7 linked regions of the Homo sapiens genome follow. The protein of the gene in region 1 purifies or fractionates together with the protein of each later gene. This does not show direct contact. Each region holds a gene or a part of one and is shown on either strand. Other genes may lie near its edges.

The links.
Region 2: the proteins of GNA11 (region 1) and SYT17 fractionate together in Homo sapiens (co-fractionation; one large-scale study listed by BioGRID). This does not show direct contact.
Region 3: the proteins of GNA11 (region 1) and TMEM248 fractionate together in Homo sapiens (co-fractionation; one large-scale study listed by BioGRID). This does not show direct contact.
Region 4: the proteins of GNA11 (region 1) and PI4K2B fractionate together in Homo sapiens (co-fractionation; one large-scale study listed by BioGRID). This does not show direct contact.
Region 5: the proteins of GNA11 (region 1) and ATPAF1 fractionate together in Homo sapiens (co-fractionation; one large-scale study listed by BioGRID). This does not show direct contact.
Region 6: the proteins of GNA11 (region 1) and TTL fractionate together in Homo sapiens (co-fractionation; one large-scale study listed by BioGRID). This does not show direct contact.
Region 7: the proteins of GNA11 (region 1) and POGLUT1 fractionate together in Homo sapiens (co-fractionation; one large-scale study listed by BioGRID). This does not show direct contact.

What each region holds. Positions count from the first base shown.
Region 1 is NC_000019.10:3,097,095-3,101,158, forward strand, and holds part of GNA11 (guanine nucleotide-binding protein subunit alpha-11), read left to right. Parts: intron 1-4,064. UniProt on the Homo sapiens protein: Guanine nucleotide-binding proteins (G proteins) function as transducers downstream of G protein-coupled receptors (GPCRs) in numerous signaling cascades.
Region 2 is NC_000016.10:19,223,618-19,227,681, forward strand, and holds part of SYT17 (synaptotagmin-17), read left to right. Parts: intron 1-1,065; coding exon 1,066-1,221; intron 1,222-4,064. UniProt on the Homo sapiens protein: Plays a role in dendrite formation by melanocytes.
Region 3 is NC_000007.14:66,937,886-66,941,949, forward strand, and holds part of TMEM248 (transmembrane protein 248), read left to right. Parts: intron 1-3,962; coding exon of another isoform or gene 3,963-3,980; coding exon 3,981-4,064.
Region 4 is NC_000004.12:25,250,760-25,254,823, reverse strand, and holds part of PI4K2B (phosphatidylinositol 4-kinase type 2-beta), read right to left. Parts: intron 2,504-4,064; coding exon 2,349-2,503; intron 1-2,348. UniProt on the Homo sapiens protein: Together with PI4K2A and the type III PI4Ks (PIK4CA and PIK4CB) it contributes to the overall PI4-kinase activity of the cell. This contribution may be especially significant in plasma membrane, endosomal and Golgi compartments.
Region 5 is NC_000001.11:46,637,223-46,641,286, forward strand, and holds part of ATPAF1 (ATP synthase mitochondrial F1 complex assembly factor 1), read right to left. Parts: intron 1-4,064. UniProt on the Homo sapiens protein: Has a complex stabilizing activity in the assembly of the mitochondrial F1-F0 complex.
Region 6 is NC_000002.12:112,495,349-112,499,412, forward strand, and holds part of TTL (tubulin--tyrosine ligase), read left to right. Parts: intron 1-4,064. UniProt on the Homo sapiens protein: Catalyzes the post-translational addition of a tyrosine to the C-terminal end of detyrosinated alpha-tubulin.
Region 7 is NC_000003.12:119,482,374-119,486,437, forward strand, and holds part of POGLUT1 (protein O-glucosyltransferase 1 precursor), read left to right. Parts: intron 1-2,954; coding exon 2,955-3,014; intron 3,015-4,064. UniProt on the Homo sapiens protein: Dual specificity glycosyltransferase that catalyzes the transfer of glucose and xylose from UDP-glucose and UDP-xylose, respectively, to a serine residue found in the consensus sequence of C-X-S-X-P-C.

The sequences.
Region 1 (4,064 bases):
CTCATTCCACTCTCCCAGTAGGCCAGCCCCGAGCTTGCGATTGCCCCCGTTTTTCAGGGAGCAGCTAGAGGGTGGGGCCGAGGCTCCCCGGAAGGAAGGGGCTGTTGGGCTGCAGCAGGTGGCTATGGCGCCTGCGGCCCACGGAATGTTCAGAGACCTCTGGGTGGAGGTCCTGGCACTCCGCAGGAGGCCCAGCCAAGCTGGGTCTGCCTCTCCCTAGAATTCTTTCCTCCCCTGCCCCTTAGCAGTGGGGGCTCCATCCCTCCTCCCCCATGGCTCCCGTACAGCGTTGTGGAGTGGATGTCGGGGAGGGAGGCAGGGGCCTGCCACCACACCCCTGTGGCATCTGGGGCCCAGGAGGGTCTCGTTTATGTGGGTGGTGCTGGTTTCTTCCAGGCTCTGGGGCAGCAGGGCTCCAGGGCCCTGCCCTGACTCCTGGGTTTGCAACCAGGTGGAGCATGTTCTGGAAGAACGCCGCGTCTGCTCGCTCTCATCCACTGCCTCCCTGGGGCTGCACACGGCCTGTGAGGTCGGTCAGCCTGGCGAGGACATTCCGTGCCCCGTTTTCGGGGTGGGGGGGACCTTACGGAGCCCTAGAGCTGGACGGGGCTCCGGCTGCCGTGCCGCCTCTCCCGCGGCGGCTAAAATGTGCTGTTCACGCCTCAGATGGGCCTCTCCGTTACGTACAACAGGTCTCCCCGGGGCCCTGTGCACATTGGTCCGGGTTGGTCTCTGGGGTGGGGCTGCCCTGGGCACTGCAGGGTGCTGAGCAGTGTCCGAGGCCTCCACCCACTCCATGCCAGGAGCTCCCCCAAGTCGTGATAACCACAGATGTCTCTAGACAGTGCCCATTGTCCCTTGGGGGGCACGTTGCCCCCATTTGAGACCCTTTACTGTGTGGTAGCGTACAACGTAAAATGCTCGTGGCAAAGCTGAGGGATAATGAGTGCAAATTATTTTGTCAGAAGTTTCCATGAGTGCTTATAGAGTATTTTTCTAAGCACCGTCAAAGCCGTGTGTGTGTGAATTCACTACTCAGTGTATGCATGAATGTGAATGCATGTATTGTTTTATACCCGTGGTATTCCAGGTTTGTCCCTATGCACACTTCTGTCGATGCTGGTGACAGCTGTGGATGGGTACAGGAGTGGCAAGCACGTACTGCGCACTTAGTGCACACGCTGCTCCCGCCTCCGTCCGCGCCGCCGCCATCCTGGGGTCCGCCCTGTGGCCTGGAGAGCTCTTGCAGGCCCTGCCAGCAGCTCTTGGATCTGGGTTCCCATTCCCCAGGCCCGCTGGGCTTCTGCCTATCACGGGCAGCCCTCGGCTGTTAGGTTTCCGTCTCACTGGTAAACTGTGGAGGGGACCCCCGTATAGTTCTTTGTGGCAGGTTTGTGGTTGGAAACGTGGGGACTTCCATGGGAATGCCTGTTCCCAGGGCCTGAGGCTGCTAGCGAGGCTGAGCCGGAGTGGCTCCAGGCTTTCTAAATAAAGCAGGATGGTTAGTTCCGGAGGCTTCCTGTCCGGCCTGCGCCAGCCCCCACGGGGCAGTGACAAGGCCCGGGATCCAGCATGGGGTGCGGTGGCCCCACGGGAAGGGCCGGGCCTCTGTTGGCCCAGTGTTGGGAGGCGTGGAGCGTGGCCTCTGGCGCCTGGCAGGGTGGCTGTGCCGTGTCCCAGAAGACTCTGGGAGCAGGAAGCGCCCTTGGATGGCCTCGTCCAACCTTGACTTCCCAAGCCCGAGCCCAGGCCAGGGAGACGTGGGGACTTGGTCCGGGCCTGCTCTCACGTCCTTTGTGTTTACATGTAATCAGTTATGATGATTGTGGCTGAAAGGGTCTGCTTTTCCCGGGCATGGTCCGGGAAGCTCCGTTCCACAGCTGTGAGCTCCGTGGAGCTTCCTCCCGAGCCTCCTGCCCGGCTCTGCCGGTGCTGTAGTGAGAGTGGAGGAAGTGCTTTCCTCCGAGATTTAACCACGAGAGGTTTCACTTTCTGAGTCTTGTGGTGGAGCCTGTCTCTGTCTGGGACCTGGACCCTGGGCAGCACGGGGAGGACGCCGTGGCATCAGGAGGTTGGAGAGGTGTGTGGTGGAGTCGGACGGATCTTAGAGGGGCGCTCGCGGGGCCTGCTCGGCCCTACCCTGTAGACAGCTGGGACCCAGCGCCCCTTCTGGGTCCCCAGCAGGGCTGTGTTCTCCCCACTGGGCACCCCAGCTTGTGCGTGGAGGATGGGAAGCCTTGTATGGCTTGCCCACCTGGGTGACTGAGAGCGGTGGATGCGATTAGGGGCGGCCAGGGGCTCTGGGAAGGCCCACGTGCAGGGTCATTATCTGGCAGAAATTAAGTCCTTTCGCAGAACCGGGATCCTAAGTGCCGGTTTGCTGGCGTGCAGGTGGTTGCAGGTGCATGTAGCTCCTGCCGCCAGGCCCTGTGTGGAGCATCCCGCCCGGGGGGCCTCCCACCATGTCTGTCATCTGTAGGGCACCTGGCAGGTCTTAGAATTGGCTGCCCTGGATCCAGACTCTCGCTGTCATCTGGGCCTGGCCACATCCCTCCCCTGCCATCAAGATGTCTGTGGTCCAGTCTCCCACCCTCCATCCCCACTCCCTGCCTCTGGGTCAGAAGCCTCCGATGGTCTCTGCTGTGGGGGTTCCTGGTCCAGCCTGGCCTCCCGCAGTCTGCCGACAGGCGCTTTCAGGACAGCACTGGTGGGTGGGTCTTCGGGCCACCTGCAGGGCCTGGGAGCAGTGTGGTGTCCGGATCAGGTACGTGGCCTGGGGAGACTCAGGTTCAGAGCCTACCTCTGCCTCTTGTAACTGTGGGACTTCAGGTCTGTGCCTCAGTTTCCTCAGGGGGCGGTGGGGTGAGGACTCGGTGGTGATCCCCATCCTGCCGCACGTGGGGACCCACGGAATGCTGGCTGCTGCTTCCGCTGCCGGTGTGGTGATATCTTGTCGCGTCCACAGCACCTGGCGTGTGTGGCACACATTGGGTGCTCTGAGAAACTGCTCCATGGGGGATCCTGCCCTGGGATCTGGGATCTGGGATCTGCCCACAGACACCTTGATCAGGATTCCCCAGCCTCGGCTCCGTGGGTGTTTTACACTGGATCGTTCTCTGGGGTGGAGCTGTCTTGGGCACTGCAGGGTACTGAGCAGCGTCCCTGGCCTCCACCCACACCAGACCAGGAGCACCCCCAAGTTGTGACAACCACAGAAGTCCCCAGACATCGCCTAGTGTCCCTGGGAGCAGGACCCCTGACCCGTGTGTCTTAGCAGCCCCCTTCCCTTCTCGTCGCCATCGTCAGCTGCGTGTCCTTGGTCCCCTGCTTCCCTGCCCATGTCATTGAGCTGTGCAGGTCTCAGAGATGCTTGGCGAGTGACCGTCATTGGCTGACTGAAGGCAGATCACGCAGGGAAGTGGAGAGGAGTGGCCCGACACCTCCCCAATGCCCTGCAGGCTGGTCTGGTGCACGCCAGGGGTCTCTGCTGGGGCAGGCTCGGTTGCCACCTGCCTGTGGGCCTGTGCACTGGGCAGAAGGGGTCTCCGGGGACAGTGCGCAGCTGGCTCTCAGAAGCTTCTTTCTGAGTCCTGCCTGTGGCCTGGGCTGCCCTGGGCTGGCCAGCACGGGGCAGTGGGGGCACACTCTGGAGGGAGCCAGGGGCGAGTCACTTCCCTCTCCCGGCCTCAGTTTCCCCATCGGTCACGTGGGAAGGCTGTCCCTCCCCCTGTAGGATTGTGGAAGGATTAAATGAGCTGAGGCCAGTGCGGCAGACAGCGGGGAGGGAGCCCTCTTGTCCCCTGTGGCTGCCCTTCCTGCTGGCTGCTTTGCACCGAAAAGCTGCGGAGTAACCCTGGGCGGTGGTGCTCCCTGGATGGCGTCCACATGGGGACCCCAAGGCCTGGGAGGCTCCAGGAGGGACGGTGCTGGCCCAGGTTTCTGTCCCTGTCTGACCTCGGAGTTGGTGTTCTGGGTACCGCACCGTCCGGTGGCCCAGGCTCCGTTTTCTCTTCTGTCAAACTGTGTGGTCACCCTGATGTTTCAGGGGCCCTGCAGGGACGGAG
Region 2 (4,064 bases), on another chromosome or scaffold:
GGAACAGATTCCATTCCATCTGCATGTTGCTTCTTCCATGACAGCAAAGGATATTACTGTGAAAGCAGCTGTAGTCAGGGATCTGTTCAGCTCAGTGGTGGAATTATTGTCTTCTCTAAGTGCGGTAGCTAAAATAAATTACTTTTGCAATAAGGTGACAGCTAGAAGACACCTTGCATTCTCAAAAGCCACATTATAAAAACAGAGGCTTAGAAAGGGCCAGTGGAGGCAATGGTATTAAGACTGAAGAGTTTCAGACTCACCACGATGGGAGAGTCAGTATGATAAAATCATTAAGGGTTTAGGAGTCAAATGATGTGGCTTACAAATGATGTGGCTTTAGGGAAGTTACTTAACCACTATGTGCCTCAATTTCTCAATCTCAAAAACTGACATAATAACAGTATTCATCTTGATAAGTTGTTTAAACAAATATTAAATTAGATAATGTACATGAATCCCTTTGTAAACTGTAAAATGATCTAAAAATGAATTATAATTCTGCCATCTCTATTCACCTGTATATGGGCTATGGGCTCACTGAAATGATAATGGGTTTCCACAGACAGAAATCCAGGGCAGGCTCTGAGTCTGGTTCTGTGTCCACCAGCAAGATCTTTAAAAACTGATTTCTCACCTTGAGTCCTCAGTTTTCTTATCTGTAAAATGAACACAATGCTGACATATGGGAGGAGCTCAACAAATATTAGATGGCTAAAGGAAGAAGGAAGGGGATAAGCAGATGAATGGGAAAATGGATGGATAATAGATGGATGGATGGTTGAACTGTCAAATAGATGAGAAATTGGATGGATAGAAAATGGATAGATAAAAGTATGGTGAGATGATGAATGGATCAGTGAACTGACGGATGGAAAGATGGATGGATGGATAAACAGGTGGATGAATGGACGGACTATGAGATGAATGAAAAGTTGAATGGGTGGATGGATAGAAGAATGGAGGAATAAAAAGACAGATGGATGGGAGGTTGAATGGCAGAATGACTGGACGGATTAGGTTTCATGATCTCCAACATTCTATGATGCTGTGTCTAATTTTCAGACCCCTTTGTGAAAATCCAGCTGGTGCATGGACTCAAACTTGTGAAAACCAAGAAGACGTCCTTCTTAAGGGGCACAATTGATCCTTTCTACAATGAATCCTTCAGCTTCAAAGTTCCCCAAGAAGAACTGGAAAATGCCAGCCTAGTGTTTACAGGTAGGTAGCATTCCAAAACCCGATGAACTCCAGGTGAGGCACGTCAAACTTACTGTCCTAGAGCCAGAAGGCATCTAGAGAGAGTTACATTTAAGAACGTAATGTCTGGCATTCAACTACCTGGGTTTGAACCCACTTAACATCTATGAACTGGGGCAGGACTCATAGAGCCCTATAATATAATTGTTAGAAATGTGGACTTGAGCCAAATTTCCTCAGACTGCCACATAATAACTGAGGTCTTTGGCAAGTTACTTAACTCCTCTGAGCTTCAGTTTCCTCATCTACAAAATGTGAACAATAATAGTACGTGTGGCATAGGTTTGTTGTGAACAGTAAATGACTTACGACTTTGCAATATACTTGGTACATAATAAGTACTCACTATGTGTTAGTTTTGATGATGATGGTGGTGATGATTCAAGTTCCCTGCAGTCAAATAGAGAGGCATATGAAAAAACAGTGTCACCTAACTCAGAAAAAGGGATTTTTAAAGTCTTCCCAGAGGATGTAGTATTTAAGTAGAGGCTTCATGTGACACTGTCTGGTAGAATTTAGTCCATTTTTCCAGGGTGTAATCTAATGTAGTATTTCCAGGGTATATTAGTTATTTATTGCAGCATAATAAATCACCCCAAAATTTAGTAGCTTGAAACAACAAACATTTATATCTCATAGTCCCTGTGGGTCAGAAATTCAGGTATACAAAGCTTTGCTGTATAGTTCTGTGTGAATACCTCTGACAAGGCTGCAATCAAGGTATTGGCTGAGGCTGCAGCCTCATCTGAAGGCTCAACTGGGGGAGGATCTCTTTTCAAGCTCACTCACAGTTTTCAGCATGATTTAGTTCCCTGCAGGCTGTTGAACTGGGGACCTCAGTTCCTTCCTGGTTGTTGGCCAGTGACCTTCCTCAATTCCTTGCCACATGGGCTTTACCATAGAACAACTCACAACATGACTTTCATCAGAGTGGTCAAGTGAGGGAGCAAGAATGGCAAGGAAGAGTCTTTTTGTAATCTAATACTGGAAATGACATCCTATTACTTTCATTATATTCTATTCACTAGAAGCAATTCACTAGGTCCAGCCCACACTCAAGAGGAAGGGATTACACAAGGGTAGGAAGAGTGGGAGGTGGGAACCACTGGGACTCATCTTAGAAGCTACTCACCACAACAGGGATAGAGTTAGTAGGAGTAATGGTTATTCTTTCTTGTGTTCTAATTACAGTATGTACTTCCCTATATCATTGCTAACATTCACCATAACCCACCCTGTCAAGTTGATATCTTCATCCTCAACTTACAGATCTAGGGACTGAGGCTTAAAACCTAAACAACCTACACAAAGTCTCAAGCTGATAGAATCAGGACTCAAGCTCTGGTCTTGCCAGCTCCACATATCAAGGGATCTATATTTCCTCAAACACCCAGGTAGGGCTAGAACTGGGGATCGACATCATCCTTTGAGACATCCTTCTCCAGGGTAACTGGAAACTCTCCTCTGGTTAGATCTTGTCTAGAACCCTGGGCTCCAGGTCTCCCAAGAAATCAATCCATGGCTGAAAAACCCTTGCATACAAGATTTCCCCTATATAAACTTATTGCTCCTTCTCACCAAGATTGCAAATGTCTATCCTCTGAGACCCCTTCGAAGCAGGTTGGTTCTGGGTTTTCTCAAGGCCTGTCACCCATAGAGTCTGCGTTGAATCAGGGGATGCCTGCCATATGCAGATATAATGATCCCTTCTAATGCAGTCTGTGATGGCTGCTGTCCGGATGGAGTTACAAATAGACAAGGGCCTCACTCTCTCCTAGGTTTCAGGCCAAGACAGAAGACCGTCACCCCTGACTCCTTAAATGGTGGACAGGCAGGTAGTGGGGCCTATTGTATATTAAACCAAGACACAGATAAAAAATGAAGTCTCTTTTCCCAAGTCCCTGCTGAGAATAAGGGACCTCCTATTGTAAGCTTAGATGAGGAGAGGACCCCAGGGGAAACTGAGAGCCCCCATGGAAAGCCCTGACACTTCATATTTTACTTAACATTTTATGATAAATGTAGCACACACGTGTTATAATGAGTGACACCATGAAAAGATGTGTAAGGACAGAGAATCAGAGGAGAACAGGGGTTATGTGCCTGTGCTGGGGAGCTGATGTCTGGGTCCTGGCTTTACCACTCACCTACTTTGGTGACCCTGGGCAAGATCTGCGTGCTTAGGTTTTCTCAGCTGTAAAATGGGGATAACAATACAGGACACTTCACAGGATTGTTATTTGCATTCAGTGAGATCAATAAACACACGGTGCTGAGCACTGTGCCACCCATAGTAAGCACTCTAGAACTGTTAACTGTTATTAAAGGGAAAGTTTAGTGTTTTCCTTTTTTCTCCCACACACATGGGGCAGCCACCACCTTCTCACTCCCTCATGCAGTTTTGTTTATTTCAGAGTGTTTTCTTGCTGTGTAATCCTTCTCCCCGCTTTTTTTTTTTTGAGACAATCTCATTCTGATGCCCAGCTGGAGTGCCATGGCATGATCTCGGCTCACTGCAAGCTCTACCTCCCAGGCTCAAGCAATTCTCGTGCCTCAGCCTCCTCAGTACTTGGGATTATAGGTGCACGCCACCATGCCTGGATAATTTTTTGTATTTTTTGTAGAGACGGGGTTTTACCATGTTGGCCAGGCCAGTCTCAAACTCCTGACCTCAAGCAATCTGCCCACCTCGGCCTCCCAAAGTGCTGGGATTACAGGCATGAGCCACCACGCCTGGCCTAATGTCTTCCTTTAATGCCTTCCCCTTTCCAGTTCCTTCTCCCTGAAGTCATGCCTTTAATGTT
Region 3 (4,064 bases), on another chromosome or scaffold:
ATTTTTAGTAGAGTCAGGGTTTCTCTACTAAAGAAACTGACTGTTGGTCAGGCTGGTCTCGAACTCCTGACCTCAGGTGATCTGCCCACCTCAGCCTCCCAAAATGCTGAGATTACAGGTGTGAGCCACTGCGCCCGGTTATTTCTTTATTTCCATTTGATGTGTGTCTTTATAGGTAGGGTGTGTTTCTTGTAGGCAACACATCGTTGGATCTGGTTTTTTTATTCATTCAGCCACTGTGTCTTTTGATTGGAGAGTTTAGTCCATTTACATTCAGTGTTGTTACTGATAAGTAAGGATTTACTCCTGCCATTTTGTTAGTTGTTTTTTGGTTGTTTTGTGGTCTTGTCTTCTTTCTTTCCTTCCTTCCTGTCTTCATTTTAGTGAAGGTGATTTTTCTCTGGTGGTATGTTTTAATTTCTTTTTATTTTTTATGTATCTGTTATAGGTTGGGCTTTCTTTATAGGACAGTGAAAACATTTGAAAATTGATAGTGAGGGTTGTTGTTCAAATCAGTGAATATACCAAAAATCATTGAATTGTATACTTTAAATGGGTGAATTGTATGGTATGTGAATTATTTCTTAATACTATTAAAAATATCAAGAACCTTTCTTTTTCTTTTCTTTTTGTTTTCTTTTGAGATGGAGTCTCGCTCTATCGTCGAAGCTGAAGTGCAGTGGTGTGATCTCGACTTGCTGCACCTCCGCCCTCCGGGTTCAACTGATTCTCCTGCTTCAGCCTCCCAACTAGCTGGGACTACAGGCACATGCCACCATGCCCAGCTACTTTTTGTATTTTTCATAGAGACGGGGTTTCACCATATTGGCCAGGCTGGTCTTGAACTCCTGACCTCGTGATCCACCTGCCTTGGCATCCCAAAGTGCTGGGATTACAGGCGTGAGCCACTGTGCCTGGCTTCTCAAGAACCTTTCATATGGCAAAAGATACCATAAACCATATTAAAGAAAACCCAGACTTGGATTAATTATACGTAACATATAAAACTGTTAAAGGCTTAGTACCCAAAACACAAAAGGAATTTCTAAACATCAATAAGAAATAGACTAACACCCTATTAGTAACTTACCAGAGGATTCAGGCAGTTCAGTTAAGATTGGGCCTAAATGGCTGATTAAAAAAGCGGAAAGATGCTTTGTTTCAGGGAGATACCATTTAAAATAATAGAGATATCATTTCACATCTGTCTTTTTGGACCATATTAATATGCCTTAGGAAATCAAGTGTTGGCACAAATCTCATGGAATGGAGCAGGCTCCTTCACTGCTGGGGAAGTGTAAACTGGTTGATCTCCTTGGAGAGTGGTCTGACAATATCAGGTTGAAGACAGGCCCTACTCTGTGACTTTGTTGTACTACAGCCACTCTTGTACCTGTTGCAATGCGCTTGGTGGGTGAAACAGTAACAGGAACCCAGCTAGGCCCCTCAGACTGGAATAACTCAACCACAGAACAATTACATATATACATCAGTGAAATTCAACGAACTAGATCAACAGAGATCAACAGAGATGTCAGAAAAACAATGTTGAGTGAAAGTGGCATGGAAAATGTGTTGCTGTTGATTTTTAGGGGCTGTTGATGCATCTTTTTGTCTCTAAAATTTAAACGCTGATACAGACTTTTTAAAAAATTGCTTTTTGCTAATGTTGTCGCAGTTTGCTCGTGTTTATAAGTGCTCATTGTGTGCCAGCTACTGTTCTAGGGGCCAGGGGCCAGGGCTGTAGCTGTGAACAAGACAGGCAAAATCTCCACTCTCACTGGGCTCATAAATGAGGGATGACAGATAGTAAACAAGTAGGAAAATAATTGTGCTCTTGGTTGATGCTAAACAATATAAAGGAAATAAAGCAGGGGCTGAGGGTGACCAAGGAAGGTGTGCAAAATCTCCGCTCTCGTTGGGCTCATAAATGAGGGATGACAAACAGTAAACAAGTAGGAAAATAATTGTGCTCTTGGTTGATGCTAAACAATATAAAGGAAATAAAGCAGGGGCTGAGGGTGACCAGGGAAGGTGTGCTCTGAGGAGCTGGCTATTAAACAGAGACTTGCATTTTTTTTTTTAATTGAGACAGTCTCATTCTGTCCCTCAGGCTGGAGTGCAGTGGCGTGATCCTGTCTTACTGCAACCTCCACCTCCCAGGTTCAAGTGATTCTCCTGCCTCAGCCTCCCTAGTAGCTGGGATTACAGGTGTGCACCACTATACCTGGCTAATTTTTGTATTTGTAGTAGAGGCGGGGTTTTGCCATGTTGGCCAGGCTGGTCTCGAACTCCTGACCTCAAGTGATCCACCCGCCTCGGCCTCCCAAAGTGCTGGGATTACAAGCATGAGCCACTGCGCCCAGCCATAGATGTGCGTTTTAAGAAGAGCAAACGTGGAAATGTTTGGGGAAAGCATCCAGGCAGATACAAAATTCTTCAGCTACATCATGGTCAAAAATGGCAGGAAGCATTAAATACTTATGAATAAACTTAATAAAAGAAGTGCAAACGTTAACACTGAAAACAGAAAACATTATTCAAATAAGGAAGCTAAATAGATGGAAAGGTCTGCAAGGCTCTTTGACTAGCAGACAACGTTGTTTGTTAAGAGAGCAGCACTCCCCAAAGCGATCCACAGATTCAGTGCAGTCCCTGTCAGTCCCAGCTGATTTCCTTGCAGACATTGACAAGATGATCCTGAAGAATAGCAAGTCCAGTGTGGCCAAAGCCCAGGAGGGAGGAGGGGAAGTGGATGGTGATGCAGTCAGGGAGACTGGCAGGGCTTCTGAGTCCTGAAAACCCTGTGGGCCATGACAGGGAGCTATTGCCGACCTCTCCTAGGTCTGGTAGAAGCCTTAGGAGCTTTTAAGCAGGGCTGGGATGGCTGTGAGCCATATGGCAATGAGCAGGACAGAATGTCGAATAAATAGAATTCAGCTTTTCAGTGGCAGGAAATGAGAGCATCCTCACTTTCTTTCTGTACATGTTGTGTATTTGTGTCACATTACTGACCCACCTAAACCTTTTCTTAAGTGATACGGAAGTAACAGTATTTATTATAGAATATTTAGAAGATTGAGTCTGGGTACGGTGACTCACACTTGCAATCCCAGAACTTTGGGAGGCTGAGGCAGGAGGATTGCTTGAGGCTAGGAGATCAAGACCAGCCTGGGCAACATAGCGAGACCCCATCTCTTAAAAGGTAATAAATTAGCCGGGCACGGTGGCTCACGCCTGTAATCCCAGCACTTTGGGGGGCCAAGGCAGGCAGATTACGAGGTCAGGAGTTCGAGACTAGCCTGGCCAATATGGTGAAACCCCATCTCTACTAAAAATACAAAAATTAGCTGGGTGTGGCGGCACATGCCTGTAGTCTCAGCTACTTGGGAGGCTGACGTGGGAGAATCACTTGAACCCAGGAGGCAGAGGTTGCAGTGAGCCAAGACTACACCATTGCTCCAGCCTGGGTCACAGAGTGAGACTCCGTCTCAAAAAAAAAAAAAAAGAAAAAAAAAAATTAGCCGGGCATAGTGGTACACACCTTTAGTCCTGGCTACTCGGGAGGCTGAGGTGGGAGGATAGCTTAAGCCTAGGAGTTCAAGGCTGCCGTGAGCTATGATCACGCCACTGCACTCTAGCCTGGGTGACAGAACGAGAGACCCTGTTTCTTAAAACACACACACACACACACACACACACACACACACACAATATTTAGAAGATTCAAACTGAAAGAGAATATGTATTCAGGATCCTGCCACTTTGAGGTAATGGCAGTTAACATTTAGTGTTTCTTCCTTCTAGTCTTTTGAATGAAGTTATGATCCGACATTTCTCAAATTCAGTAATGAGTGCCCATCCCACCCAGCTCACCCCCCAACACCTCAAAAGGAAACAAAAGAATCATAGCTTTCCTGTTGGCAAGTCAGTCCTTGAAGCTTCTGATTCATTTCTTTCAGGTGGAGCTGATCAGAATAATGTTCAGCATCAACCCCCTGGAGAACCTGAAGGTGTACATCAGCAGTCGGCCTCCCCTGGTGGTCTTCATGATCAGCGTAAGC
Region 4 (4,064 bases), on another chromosome or scaffold:
ACCCTGGGAAGGTGGGGGCAAGGCTCCAAGACCCCATGCCACTTAACCAGATTAACTCTAATTTCACCTGTTTTATATTGCTGGACTTCCAAGTTAAGAAACAGTTTCACTGGGCCGGGCACGGTGGCTCACACCTGTAATCCAGCACTTTGGGAGGCCGAGGCGGGCGGATCATGAGGTCAGGAGATCGAGACCATCCTGGCTAACATGGTGAAACCCCATCTCTACTAAAAATACAAAAAATTAGCCGGGCGTGGTGGAGGGCACCTGTAGTCTCAGCTACTCAGGAGGCTGAGGCTGGAGAATGGCATGAACCCAGGAGGCAGAGCTTGCAGTGAGCGGAGATCGCACCACTGCACTCCAGCCTGGGTGACAGAGCGAGACTCTGTCTCAAAAAAAAAAAAAAGGAAAGACTTTCACTGATTTTTAAATGTTTCAAAACCACCATTCTAGGTCAAACAGTGTTATTATTCACTATCTATTAAATATCCACATTACATGTTTGCTGTTTACTTTCCCCACATTAATGTACATTCTAATAAGGCAAGGACTTGGTTTGTTAGGGCTGCATTTCCAGTAGTCAGAACAGTATCTGATGAACAGTGGACATCCAAGTATTTGTTAAATTAACTAATCCAATGACAAAAACTACCTCTAAAATACAAATATAATGATAAGATACAGTGTACATCCATGCTGTCAGATTCTCGTACCCTAATTCTTTTCCAGCTATTTTTTCAGGAACCAATTTAAAGTAAACTCTTGGCCAGGCGCTGTGGCTCACACCTGTAATCCCAGCACTTTGGGAGGTGAGCAGATCACTTGAGGTCAGGAGACCAGCCTGGTCAACATGGGGAAATCCCGTCTCTACTCAAAATACAACAATTAGCTCGGCGTGGTGGCGAGCGCCTGTAATCCCGGCTACTCAGGAGGCTGTGGCAGGATAATCGCTTGAACCCGGGAGGTGGAGGTTGCAGTGAGCCGAGACTGTGCTACTGCACTCCAGCCTGGGCGACAGAGTGAGAATCCATCTTAACAAATAAATTGATTAAATTCTCTCGTATTAAAAAATCTTTTTTTGCTCATGAATGTCTAAAAGTCTCTGTACTCTTATTGTTTGATACAATATACTCATATTCAATTTAGAAGCTGAATTATCCTTAGACAAGAACAAATCTTATTATAATTTTAAGTATATAATTGCTTTATAACACAATAAATATAATGCAATAAGGTCTGAGTCACTAGTAAAAAAGTCAACAAGATCAAATTAAGAAATCAAGCTTAGAATAAAGATTGAGAGATTGACAGTACCTTCAAATACATTTTAATCTTAAAAAAGGGACTATGCTTTAAAATCATTTTAAAAATAGAACTTCTATCTTTGCCAAAAAAATTGGGTGAAATTATAAACGTTATTCCCCTGGAGAAAAGAACTGCTCATTATGCATCATTCAGAAAGCTTTTAGAAAAAATAACATATTTTTGAAAAATTCTAGACTAAGTGGAGCAAAGTGCCACATCAACTTCTCTTTTCCACTTTAGAATCATCCTGTGGTTCATTTCACTTTCACATTCCAATACTTTCAAGCTTCAGATTGCTAAGCCTCCTTCCCCTGGTAAAATGCCAGAAAAGGTATTCACATACCTTTGAAAAAAAATCAAGTACTTTGGAAATGACATTAAACAACTTTTGAAGGTTTAACCTTCCACCGTGTTTGGCTATTAAGGTTATAGACTTCCATAAGATAAGGACTTGTGAATATATATACTCAAAAAGGCTACAGCTGAATGTGGGTATTCAATAAATGCTTGAAACCAAGTATAAAATAACAAAATAGCAAACTGTGACTTGAACTGATTAGCTCTGTTTCTAAGCACTAGAGTGCTTTAGTAAAAGCAAAACATTGAGGCTGGGCACAGTGGCTCACACCTGTAATCTCAACACTTTGGGAGCCAAAGCCGAGGTTTGCTTGAGCCCAGGAGTTCAAGACCAGCCAGGGCAATATAGGGAGACCACCGTCTCTACAAATAATTACAAAAATTAGCCCAGTGTGGTGGCACGCAACTATGGTCCCACCTACTTGGGAGGCTGAGATGGGAGGATTGCCTGAGCCCAGGTGGTCAAGGTTACAGTGAGCTATGATTGCACCACTGCACTCCAGCCTGGGTAAGAGAGGGCGACCCCGGGCGTCTCAAAAAACAAACAAAAACTGACCTTTGTTTTGGAAAAGAGGTTACAATCAGACTTAATAGGAAAATATCTTTAGAAACTCACAATGATTTCATATTTAAATTAGTATTTACCAAAGTTTCCATTACATATAATAGGTCTGTGAAATTCTCACCCTCTTAGGATCCTTCACAAAGTAACTTCCACTTGAACCTTGAGAGATTCTTTCTGGAAAAATTCCAACTTCTATTGCTTGCTCTGCTCTCAGCATAATATCGGCAAATTCTGGGTCATCCAAGAATGCATTCATCTCTGAAGTACCAATAGTTACTGCATTAAGAAGAAATACCAGCTATGAGAATGCTCATGATATGGACCTGTAATATCGATTAGCTTGCCGGTATCAGGATATAAGGTACAGAAAAATGTAATCAAGATTTGTATAGACTGCTCTAATCCTCCTTCCCCCCACTGCCTAACAACCCCCACTTCTCTTAAATTTCCAAATAATAACATGGGGGCGGGGGCGGGCACAGTGGCTCACGCCTGTAATCCCAGCACTTTAGGAGGCTGAGGCGAGTGGATCACCTGAGGTCAGGAGAGTTCAAGACCAGCCTGGCCAACATGGCAAAACCCCGTGTCTACTAAAAATACAAAAAATTAGCCAGATGTGGTGGTGGGCACCTGTAATTCCAGCTACTCGGAAGGCTGAGGCAGGAGAATCACTTGAATCTGGGAGGTGGAGGTTGCAGTGAGCAGAGATTGCGCCACTGCACTCCAGCCTGGGCAATAAGAGCGAGACACCGTCCAAATAATAATAATAACAACAACAACAACAACAACATGGGAGGAAGTTAACTGTTCATTAAAAATAATACTAATACCTCTCATTTCTTTGAACTTCGGTCCTGCAATGATTCTATCATCCATCCTACTTCATCCTCTAGTTCCCCAATCATATCTCGGATTTTGTCAATACCAGTAACTGCAACCTCACCACACTTTCAATTTCAAGCACCTCCTGTCTTCCCAGTTCAGTCCCTCTGGCACTCCGAGTCCAAATATTCTTCTGCCCTACTAGAACCTACAAAGGACTGCTCCCCCACGTCACTGGAATTCTCTCCCTTCATGTCCTTGCTTCCCTCCTCCTTGGCCAGCTTAAATTATGCTGGGTCTTCACAAAATCAACTCTTTCTTTCTCCCTTCATCATGGTCACCTGCAAAACTCCCAGTCCTGGTTAAACCCAACTGTCTACCAACTCCATGCCTGCACCAGGGCAGCGGAATTAAAGAAATGCACATGAGCCAATTTCTCTCCTCAAATTCCCAACACCTCCTCTTCCATCCTCTCTCTCAGGAGAGGATCTAGCTTCCTATTTCATTAAGAAATAAGCAGCAATCACAAAATACTACGACCAGCCCCCAGCACTGCATTTATTACCAACTACTTAACTTTGGAATGGCCCAGGTTCCATTCACAGTCCTCTTCTCTCCGTTACCAACACTGGTGACTCCCAAATTTCTAATTCAAGCCTGGACTTCTGCCCTAAACTCGACAACTGTATTCAACATCTCCACTTGGATGCGTAATAGACATCTCAAACTTCACTACCCAAAACTTCATTCTTCACCTTTACGCCTCCCAAAGGCTTCATCCCTACGTTTCCCATATTGCAGTTGCTGGCACCTCCAAATCTTCCAGTTGCTTAGGCCAAAAACCTTATAATCATCCATGATCTCACACGCTTACCCTCTACATCCAATCAGCAGGTTGTATTGGCTCTACCTTAAATAAATACCCAGAATCCAACCACCTCTTGCCATCTCCATTCCTTCCACATGATTCAGGTTACCATCGGCTCTCACCTCGATTATTCTAAGAGCCTCCTAA
Region 5 (4,064 bases), on another chromosome or scaffold:
CAGAGAAATTAGCCAGATGTGGTGGCATGAGCCTGTAGTCCTAGCTACTCGGGAGGCTGAGACAGGAGGATTGCTTGAGACCAGGAGTTTGAGGCTGCACTGAGCTATGGTCATGCCAGCACACTCCAGCCTGGGTAACAGAGGAAGACTCTATCTCTAAAAATAAAAATTAAAAAATGACAGAGATGGGGGTTAGAACACGGGCTACACTCTCAAACTTTGCAAAAGAGTCACCTCAGACAACTCTTACTTTTGCTATACATTCTGCAGTTCTAGTCGGTCAGAGGTACTTGTCCATTATCACCATGTTCATATAGCCAAAATTAAACCCCAAAAGGTCATGGAAAATTCCCACTAAAAACTTACTGCCAAAAGTGTGCTATGTCTAGCTAGAGAATGATGAAGACGGGTTTATAAATAACATGGGCTGTGCTCCATCTCTATTCCCTCTGTGGGACTTTCAGGACATTTCTCATGAGCAGGCACTAATCTCTGAGACTGCATCTTCAATCAAAAACCTTTTCCCAAAAAGCTGGCTACTTCAAATTAATAGAATTTTAGAGCTAGAAGGGACCTCAGAGATCACCCAGTTCTCATTTAATAGGCTAGGAAACCAAGGCAGATGAGGTTCAGGGATGGGCTCAAGGTCAAGTGGCCAGCCAAGGTCACAGCCAGGACTAGACCTCTAGACTCCCTGGCTGGTATTCCCCCCAATTCATCCTTCTGTTTCTGGTAGGGCAAGATAATTAAGATTGATGAAGGCCAATAACTACTTCATCCATTTTACCTTTCTTAAATTCACACATGCCTCAAGAGCAAATCATTTCTGAAGCAAGTGCACTGCTATAATCTGAGGATACCACCACTCTCTCAGCCCCTGGCTACAGGGCCTCTGACATCAACTTTTATCTGAAGCTTGGGGTGGGAAGGTAGGAGTAAGTTCAGCTGTGTTCACACTACAACACTGCTGTTCAAACTATTCTGTAGAGTCCTAGGTGCTCTGTGGAGGTGCCTCAGGTCCCTTCACCTGTTTTAGCTGTCATATCCTGGGGTTTTACATAGTAAGATTTTGTTTGGATAAAGGGGTCCTCCTACTACTTTAAAAAGAAGTTTGGGCCAGGCGTGGTGGCTCACGCCTATAATCCCAGCACTTTGGGAGGCCGAGGTGGGCGGATCATGAGGTCAGGAGATCGAGACCATCCTGGCTAACACGGTGAAACCCCGTCTCTACTACAAATACAAAAACAAAATTAGCTGGGCGTGGTGGTGGGCGCTTGTAGTCCCAGCTACTCGGGAGGCTGAGGCAGGAGAATGGCGTGAACCCGGGAGGCAGAGCTTGCAGTGAGCCGAGATCCAGCCACTGCACTCCAGCCTTGGTGAAAAGAGCAAGACTGTCTCCAAAAAAAAAAAAAAAAGTTTTTGAAGACCACTAGTACAGTGAGTAGGATAGGAAGGTAAGACACAGAGAGAGATGTCTACCTCTCATGGAGGGTTATAGAAAGGCAACCCCCACCAGCCCTTATTCTCCCCCTGCCTTTTATTCTCTTGGCTTTCAACATGAAGCAACAGTCTCCTCCTTTTCCAAGACCCAATAAGATAAACATACTAATTCCCTGTGCTGCTCAATAAAGAGGTATTTTAACAAGTTTGATTCCTCCCTCTCTTTCAATTTTCAAATCTACAATCAACGCACCAAGTCCTGACTATTTTATTCCCTACATATTCCTGGGGTCATTCTCTTTCCTCCATCTCTATACCACTGCTGTAGTTCAAGTTTTCACCACTTCTTGTGCAGACTATTGCAACTGACTTCTAAATTATCATACTGACTAGACTTGAACTACACAATGTTTAGGAAGCAAATAATTAAAGTTAATAATTAATAGGCTAGGTCTTAAAATCCATCTCTTTATGGGTTCTTCTCTGTTCAAACCCTTTAATGACTCTTTTCATGCCCTCAGGGTAAAGCCAAATCTCTAAACAAAAACCACCAAACCTTACATATACACACATACACACACACACACACAAGTGATACCAAACTCTTTACAATACTCCAAGTCATTTTATGTCTCTCAGCATTTACTTATGCTATTCCCTCTGTCGGAAACATTTCTCCCCTTCTTTATTAGGCTAACTCCTGCTGTTTGAAGGTTCAGTCTGGGTGTCATCTCCAGGAAATATTACTCCCTTTGGGCCAGGGATATCACCCCACTCTCTATCCCTAGAACCTTCTGCATGTCTATCCTAGCACTTACTGCATTTCAATGAAATCATCTATTGACATAGATGTGGAGCCAAATAAAGCTAGGTTTTTAAATATTCCATTAGTTTTTAGCATTAAAGTTAGTTCAGAAGAAATCTCTAGTTTCCATGTATTTCTATTCATTTGACATTAATGCTTTACCATAGTTGGAAATACTATGCCTAAAGTGCACAATTCATGCATGAGTATACAGGGGATCATATATTCATCTTATACTTCTAAGTTTCTCTTCTCTAAGTCATGTACAACAAGTTCTAACATGTCTAGTTCTACACTACATCGGAACCTCACAGTCAAGTTGATTTATACAAGGCAAATATGTATTGTCTTGTATGCTGTCAAATGTTAAAAGGCCAGGAAGCAAATTTTAACAATGATGAGAACTGCACAGCAGTTTGAGACCACCAGAGTGAGGTGGTAAAAATGGCAAACAGCAGAATGGGCCTCCTCTGACCTTTAGGATCCACTTTTAATATGATTAGATGCTGTGCTTTGCCGAAGACCAGAAAATATAGTACAATCTCTATATTGTCACTCACTTGCATGATCAAATTATTTCCTATCTTTTCAGCTCACTTCCAACTCCCACAACCCATTAGGACTCATAATTCTTACTGTCTCTAACCTCCCTTATATTTTCACTTTCCTCATTACCCAGCTTCCATTCCATGGTCAATAATCATTCCTTTGCATTCACCTTTAACTTCCTTCAGGCCATAGATAATATGTAAATAAATGAATATGGCTGTGTTCTAATAAAACTTGAAATACTATTTTTCTTTAATAATAGTTTTTGTTATTAAATAATTTCTGTATTTCTTTAAGAATAAAGAGTTTTTGGCCCAGCGTGGTGGCTCATGCCTGTAATCCCAGCACTCTGGAAGGCCGAGGTGGGTCGATTACCTGAGGTCAGGAGTTCGAGACCAGCCTGGCCAACATGGTGAAACCTCGTCTCTACTAAAAATACAAAAATTAGCCAGGTGTGGTGGCACATGCCTGTAATCTCAGCTACTCAGGAGGCTGAGGCAGGAGAACTGCTTGAGGCTGAGGCAGGAGAACTGCTTGAGCCTGGGAGGTGGATGTTGCAGTGAGCTGAGATTGTGCCACTGCACTCCAGCCTGGCCAACACAGCGAGACTCTGTCTCAAAAACAAACAAACAAACAAACAAACAAAAAAAGAGTTTTTCCCCCTAATCATTTAAAGAGGTAGAAAACATTCTTAACTCGTGGGCGTTATAACAAGCAGTGGGCTGGACTTGGCCCATAGGCTGTAGTTTGCTGACGCTTGTCCTAGACAACAATTTTGTACTTCCTCTTTTTGACTCAAATGTCCAACATTTTTCCAACCTTGCTTTCAGCTGATGAGAACTTTTCTTTCTTTTCACTGAGCAATCTGTAGGAAACTTATACCACTACCTCTATCCATCTAATTTTATCAGTGTCCTTATACTCTGGCTTCTCTCCTGCTGTCATATTCCTGGTAAAGATCAACCCCTCATTACCAGACTTGCCCACTCAAAAATATCACTTCCCGCTTTCTCCTGTATCATCAACATTTCCCTCTCCACTGGATCTTTATTTATTTTATTTTATTATTATTATTTTTTTAGACAGAGTCTGGGTCTGTCGCTCAGGCTGGAGTGCAATGGTGCAATCTCAGCTCACTGCAACCTTTGCTGCTGGGGCTTAAGTGATCCTCCTACCTCAGCCTTCCGAGCAGCTGAGATTACAAGGTGCATGCCACCACGCCTGGCTAATTTTTGTATTTTTTGTAGACACAGGGTTTCATCACATTGGC
Region 6 (4,064 bases), on another chromosome or scaffold:
TTCTGTAGGCTTCACACAAACACAGACATTCTGTCTTATTCATCCTTGTACCTTCCTCATAGGCAGTCAACAAATATATGTTGAATGAATGCATGTAAGGGGTAAGGTTTATAATGTTAACTCAGGCTGAAAATAGAGGCAGTTCCCAATGTAATGAACACATAAACAATCTCTGTCTATGTTAATGCCCTCATACGCTCTTTATAAAACCATTCTGGCTGGGCATAGTGGCTCACTGCCTGTAACCCCATCGCTTTGGGAAGCCGAGGCGGGCGGATCACAAGGTCAGGAGATTGAGACCATCCTGGCTAACACGGTGAAACCCCGTCTCTACTAAAAATACAAAAAATTAGCTGGGTGTGGTGGCGGGTGCCTGTAGTCCCAGCTACTCGGGAGGCTGAGGCAGGAGAATGGCGTGAACCCGGGAAGTGGAGCTTGCAGTAAGCTGAGATCGCACCTTCAGCCTGGGTGACAGAACAAGACTCCTTCTCAAAAATTAAAAAAAAAACCATTCCATTTTGAACTCACTTCTTGTATTGCCTTGGAAGACATCTAGCCATTGGTACTCATTTCTGTTCCGGGTCGAAGGGACCTCACCTTCTTTTCCACCAGCGATGAGACAGGAAGGCCTCAACTGGTATCCCTGAAAGGGGGAGAGTTGGACTCTTGCCACAAGTCAGGTATCTCACCTACTTCTCTCTCCCCTCTTGTGACCTTTTCTCAACTACTGCCCCCTAGTGTGGTTCCAATGGTAAATGACGGATTTGGAAGAGGAAATAGACATCCCTTCTCCTGTGGGTTTGGGATTGGAGTCAGAATGGCCACTGTGAGGACACCTGGTGATCCCTGGACCCTCACTAAGACAAGACTCAGAGGGACACCAAGCAGCAGGGGGAAGTCAAGAGAGAATAAAATGCTAAAGACTTTTTGCTTTAAGAGTTGAAGAGATATATATTTGATATATATTTATTATGTTTGGAAACCATAAAATGAAACCAATAGGATGAATGAATGGTTTTTATTCTTGTTAAACAAGTATTTATTTGGTACCCACTACATGCTTTGTATAGTTGGCTCAACCTTCAAACTCTACCCATTATGAAGCTACTGTTTACCATGTCCACTGCCTATTTCTAATCTAGCCACCTTCACCTCTCACCTGGAGCGTGGGAACACACTACATCTATAACAGAAAATTATTGTTTAGAAACAACCCCATTATTCCACTATTACAGATAACAGTAGTAAATGTCTTTGCTGTAGATGACCCTTGTTTCTTTTTTAATTTTAATTTTTTATTTTATATATATATGTGTCTGTGTGTGTGTGTGTGTGTGTGTGTGTGTGTGTGTGTGTGTGTATTTTTTTTTTTTTTTTGAGACAAGGTCTCACTTTGTTGCCCAGGCTGGAGTGAGATGGCATGATCTCAGTTCACTACAGCCTCGACTTCCTGGGCTCAAGCGATCCTCCCAACTCAACCTCTTTTTTTTGAGACAGAGTCTCACTCTGTCACCCAGGCTGGAGTGCAGTGGTGCCATCTCAGCTCACTGCAAGCTCCGCCTCCCAGGTTCACGCCATTCTCCTGCCTCAGTATCCCGAGTAGCTGGGACTACAGGTACCAGCCACCACACCCGGCTAATTTTTTGTACTTTTAGTTGAGACAGGGTTTCACCACATTAGCCAGGATGGTCTCGATCTCCTGACCTCGTGATCCGCCCGCCTCAGCCTCCCAAAGTGCTGGGATTACAGGCGTGAGCCACCGTGCCCGGGCCCGCTCCCATCTCAAGCTCTTGAGTAGCTGGGACGACAGCCGTGCACCACCACACCCTGTTAATTTTTTGATTTTTAGTAGAGATGAAGTCTCACTGTGTTACCCAGGCTGTTCTTGAACTCCTGAGCTCAAGTGATCTTCCCACCTCAAGCCTCCCGAAGTGCTGGGATTACAGGCATGAGCCATCACACCCAGCCTTGACTCTTGTTTCTTCTTAAAAATTTCATTAGAGTAAGTTTGAAACATGAGATTACTTGGTCAAATGATATGAAGCCTTTATGGCTCTTGCTCTGTGTTATCCTCTTGCTTTTTCAAAGGGCCGTGAGCTAACAGGGAGCAGTTCATGACGAACTTTTACTAAAAGTATCACCATTTTTGTTTTCTTATTTTGTAGGTATAAAACGATACATAAAATTCAAATTTATTTTATAATTTTTGATACTGTTGTATCAAAAAATCTGAGTCTGATTCCTAAGGGAGATGAAACAGCATGAGTCATGTGTGTAGGGGAAGAGAATAAGGGAGCTTTTCCAGGTTGATTTGCAGTTTCTTGTTCAAGAAGCTCACCAGATGGTCGAACAAGTGACAGGAAGAAGATAGTTGAAAAGGGCGTTAACGTTTGGGAAAGGTGGATCATTGAATTAATGAACTGAATTGAATTCATTTATAAAGAAAGCATGAGATCCAGGTAGAAATCAGCTATAAATCTAAAGCATAGATCAGAAGATTCTAGCAAACTGAAACCACAACGAACTGTCACTACACTTTTATTAAAATGGTTATAATAAGAAGTGGTGACAACTCACTAAAGAGTGAGTTCAGCCATGTTACGGGATATGAGAGCAACACACAAAACTTAATCACATTTTTATGTGCCAACAATGAACATGTGGAAACCAAAGTTAAAAACACAAAACTACTTAGCTGGGCGCAGTGGCTCACACCTGTAATCCCAGCACTTTGAGAATCCAAGGCGGGCGGATCACCTGAGGTCAGGAGTTCGAGACCAGTCTGGCTGACTTGCTGAAACCCTGTCTCTATAAAAATACACAAATTAGCCGGGCTTGGTGGCAGTCACCTGTAATCCCTGTTACTCAAGAGGCTGAGGTGGGAGAATCGCTTGAACCCAGGAGGCAGAGGTTGCAGTGAGCTGAGATCGCACCATTGCACTCCAGCTTGGGCAAGAGAGCAAAAATTCCGTCTAAAAAAAAACCAAAAAACTACAGTACTACTTACAGTCACCCTAGAGAAAATGTGATGCTTGGGTATAAATTTAACAAGACATGTATAGGCTCTGTGTGCTAAAAATAGTAAAATGATTATGAAGGAAGTCAAAGAGGACCTAAAGAAATGGACAGACATACCGTGTTCATGGATTGCAGGACAGTATAGTAAAGATGTCAGTTCACCCTAAACTGGTCTATAGGTTTATGTAGTTCTTATCAAAATGTTAGCAACATTTTTGTATAGACATGGAGCTTCTTTTAAAATTTACATGGAGGGGCCGGGCACGGTGGCTCACACTTGTAATCCCAGCACTTTGGGAGGCCAAGGCGGGTGGATCACCGGAGGTCAGGAGTTCGAGACCAGGCTGGCCAACATGGTGAAACCCTGTTCCTACTAAAAAATACAAAAATTAGCCAGGCATGGTGGCGGGCGCCTGTAATCGCAGGTATTTAGGAGGCTGAGGCAGAAGAATCGCTTGGGCCCAGCCTAGGCGACAAGACCAAGACTCCATCTCAATCAATAAATAAATAATAAAAATTCATATGGAAAGGCACAAGCCCTAGAATAGCTTAAACATCTTGAAAAAGAAGAATATAAGTGAACATGCTACCTGATATTAAGATGTATTTTAGAGCTATAGTACTTAATACACTGTAGTATTCATGAAAAAATAGAAACATAAATCAGTGGGGCCAGGCACGGTGGCTCTCGGCTGAAATCCCAGCAGAGGCCAAGGCGGCTGAATCACCTGAGGTCAGGAGTTCGAGACAAGCCTGGCCAACATGGTGAAACCCCATCTCTACTAAGAATACAAAAAAATTAGCCAGGTGTGGTGGCGCATGCCTGTACTTTCAGCTACTCGGGAGGCTGAGGCATGAGAATTGCTTGAACCAGGGGGCAGAGGTTGCTGTGAGCCGAGATCACACCACTGTGTGACAGAGCAAGACTCTGTCTCAAAAACAGAAGAAACATAAATCAGTGGAAGAGAATAGAGAACTCAGAAATAGACCAAAACATATATGCCCATCTGATATTTGAAAAAGGTGCAAAAGCCATTCAATAGAGG
Region 7 (4,064 bases), on another chromosome or scaffold:
AGAGTCACTTTATTTATTTGTTTGTTTGTTTATTTTTAAAAGGCAGGATCTCACTATGTTGCCCAGGCTGGACTCAAACTCCTGGGGTCAAGGTGTTATCCAGTTACTCCACCGTGTAGTTATTAATACCATTTTCCCCCAGGTAAACTAGTAAGCAATTTTTAGGCAGATAGAATGTTTTAAAGTCTAATCTTATATGAATACTTTTTTCTTTTGATACCTTCCCATTTTATTCAATTGAATTTATTCATGGTTATAGAAATACAATTTTGTTTTTTAGAACCCTCTGTTTAGAATCTCTAATGATGTTCATTTGTTACCTTGAAAATTTAATAATCTGCTTGTTTATCCATCTGCACTGATGTCTGCCTGCCACTGTTCATTCTATTTTTCTGATATTTTGGGAGTTTGTGCCCACTGATTTATATTTCACTCTGTAGAAGAATTCATTGTTCTTTACAGATCGAAGATTTCATTTGTTACTGTCAGAGAGGGTTTAAAAAAGAGGGCTGGGGTAGCACCAGGCTGTGGTGGCCACCGTTAGCACTTGCCTGGAGAAACAAGTCCTAACCTAGGTCTTTTGAGGGAGGATGGGTAGGTTAGGAGAATGAAAGAGAGAGAACAGTGATACACAGTTTGGGTTTGTGTATATGAAACACAGCTTCCCCAGGAGCCAAGGAAATAAAGAGAAGTAACTTTGAGTATAAATTGATACATGTTTTGTTAGATAGTTTGACAATATGTATCAAAATTGGAAATGTATACTGTGTATCCTTTGACCTAGCTGTTTCATGTCTAGAATGTATCCTAAGGAATTAATCAGATGAATGTGCAAAGATTTGTGTACAAGGATGTTTACTACCATGTTGTTTCTTAGAGCAGAAAGTTGGAAACTACCTAAAAGTCCATCAATAAAGGATGAAGTGAATCATAACATGACTATAAAATGGAATTTTTGCAGTGAGTCTTTGCCAGAGATTATAAAATGGAATATCGTGCATGAATGGAAAGGCAGTGTAGGTTTTAAAAACTCTGGGTTCAAATCCTGGCTCTTATTAGCTGCATGACTCTGTGCAAGTTGCTTAACCTCTAAAGGACCTCATTTGTAAAATAGGGGTGATAAAACCTACCTCTTAAGATTGTGAGAATGATTTTTTATTTACAAAGCACTTAAAACAATGTCTGTAACATAGTGAAGTGCTATATAGATGTTGGCTGTTATTATTATTTATATTTCCTATTAAGATTGTTACCTAACAGTATGTATGGTGTGACCTCTGTTACATAGAGCAAAGTTTCTCAGTACTAGTGTTGCTGACATTTGGGGCTGGATAATTCTTTGTCCTGGGAGCTGTCCTAACCACTGTAGGATTGTTCAGCAGCATTTCTGATCTTTACCCACTAAATGCCAGTAGCAGTCCCCTAGTAGTAACAATCAAAAATGTCTACAGACATGGCCAAATGTCCCCTGGGTGGGAGGGACGGGCAAAATTACCCCCAGTTGAAAGCTACTAATATGAATAAATGATTGCAAGGAAATTCTCGGCTAAAATGTTACATTGTTACCTCTGGACAGGGAGATTCCAGACGACTTCTTACTTTTATCTTTATGCTTTTTCATGAGAACTTTGCATGAGGAGCATGAAACATTTTCCACTAAAAACAAAACAACAAAAATCCAGTGCTATAGTGTCTCTGCTTGGGCAGGAAGAAGTATGGGGAAAACAAGATAGTTCTGGCCTTAGACTGGAGAATCAGGTAAAGGTGATCCATCCAGAAAAGGCCAGAGGATGAGCCACGTTGGCTGAGGGTGGAGGTCTGAGGGCCTGGAAAATACTGAGCAGCGTTCTCAGCTGAGTGAAAATGAGCAGCATGACATTATATGTATCTGAAAAGGACCTGTGCCTAGAAAGTTTATATCCTAAGTTTCTCCGTTACTGTAATCCAGCCCATCAATCCCTCATTAACTTCAGTTCAGCCTTCCCTTCCTTTTTCAGAGAAGATGCTGTGCAGACTTCTGTGCAGGGAGGGTTCCTACGAAGCAAGTTAAGAATGATGCATCTGTGAGCTAGCAGTTTCAGTAAGGAAGGCTGGTCATGGTAATGTGTACTGAGATCTGACTTTCAAGGACTTCATCTTTATAGAGCACTTAGTCTGGCTTTAAGAATACAAAGGTGCTTTTCAAATATCAAACTAAATCTGATGACACTTCCCACCTATGGAAAACATAAAATCAGAGAGTGATTTCCCTTTCATTCCATTTCTGATGCTTTTTTATTTTTTTGCAGTTCTGTACACATAATTAATTTCATCAGTAGCACCCTACTTAAAGTACAGAGGAAATCCACATTTGCCAAATTATAAACAGACCTAATCATGACCTTCAGGGTTTGGGGGCTTTTCTTTCAATGTTGTTAACTTGTTAATGGGGAGTAGATTTGTAGATACAACTGGGTAGCACCTCCAGAGCAATGAAATGGTAGCAAAAGGAAACAAAGTGTCCTTTAGGGCTTTTTCTTTTGAGTGACTTTGATTAGACTTACTTAGAAATATGAAGCTCTGGCCAGGCACAGTGGCTCACGCCTGTAATCCCAGCACTTTGGGAGGCCGAGGCAGGCGGATCACGAAGTCAGGAGATAGAGACCATCCTGGCTAACACGGTGAAACCCTGTCTCTACTAAAAAATACACAAAATTAGCCGGGCGTGGTGGCGGGCGCCTGTGGTCCCAGCTACTCAGGAGGCTGAGGCAGGAGAATGGCATGAACCCAGGAAGGGGAGCTTGCAGTCAGCCAAGATCGCGCCACTGCACTCCAGCCTGGACGACAGTGCGAGACTCCGTCTCAAAAAAAAAAAAGAAATATGAAGCTCTGAACTAATCTTCAGAAATGGTTAAAGCACATTCTTATATAGTTGAAAAAGATATATTGAAACTAATTAAATTCTATATTCTTAGGTCAGCAGCACAGTGGCCATGGAAAAAGAAAAACTCTACAGCATATTTCCGAGGATCAAGGTGAGTTATTTTCTGACATTTTACAAAGATATTCTTCCAAGTAATGTAAAATGTAAGTAACTTTGAGGGTATGACAAGCTCTGTAGTTCAAAGGGAAAGCTAAGATAACAAAGAAAGAAATGTGGAATCACAATTTTAGATTCGAGAATAATTCACATTATTTGCCGAAATCGCCATTGATTGAGTTGATATTCAAAGAAGTAAAGTTCATCCATTTCAGTCATTTAACAGATATTTTACATAGTGTCACAAATGTGTCGGTCATTGATTATGTGATGCCAAACACAACAGATGGGTGTCTTCTTACAGTCCCTAGGAGTAGCTTATGATCATGCCACGGTACTCTGCTGGTTAATGCAGAGCAGGACTCATCACCATATCTCTTGACTGCCTTTTTTATCACACCCTGTGGCTGCCAAATAGTGGTTAAGAGCACAGACTGAGACTGCTGAAAATGAAGAAGGGAGCAGGGAGGAAAGAGAAGAGAAAAATGGCAAAGGTAGTAGGAGGACCCTGTGTTGTTCAGCTCCATAGTCCCAAGGCCAAGAACAGTTCCTAGCATGTCAATATATGATAAATATCTGTGGAGCAGATGAATAGAAAAGACCATGAAGGGAGCAGGGTTTTGTAGTTTTAGCAAGTGAGTCCTTGCCAGAGATTATACTCCCTCTTCACCCTCCTCTTCACTTCGGAGCTAGACTTTAGGAGGTAAATGGATTATCCAGCTACTATGTCCTGTTTCTTACCAACTTCTCTGATTCTTAAATCTTGAAGTCACAAATTAACTTGGGGACCATGTCTGGACTTCAAGAGTTTTAGGACTCCCTTGAAATTATGTGAGGATATGTGCATTTTTCTGGGAAGGAGAGAGGGTTGGTTCATAGTTCTTAACAGATTATCAAGGAATCCATGATGCCTCACATGTCAAGACCCTCTGCTACTTGGAACATCACTAGAAATTCTTCCACATACAGTCGTCAGGTTTTTAAGCCCTTTGGTTTTTGTGCATTTTTTTTAAATTAAATATTATACTGGGCTGTACAGAGCATA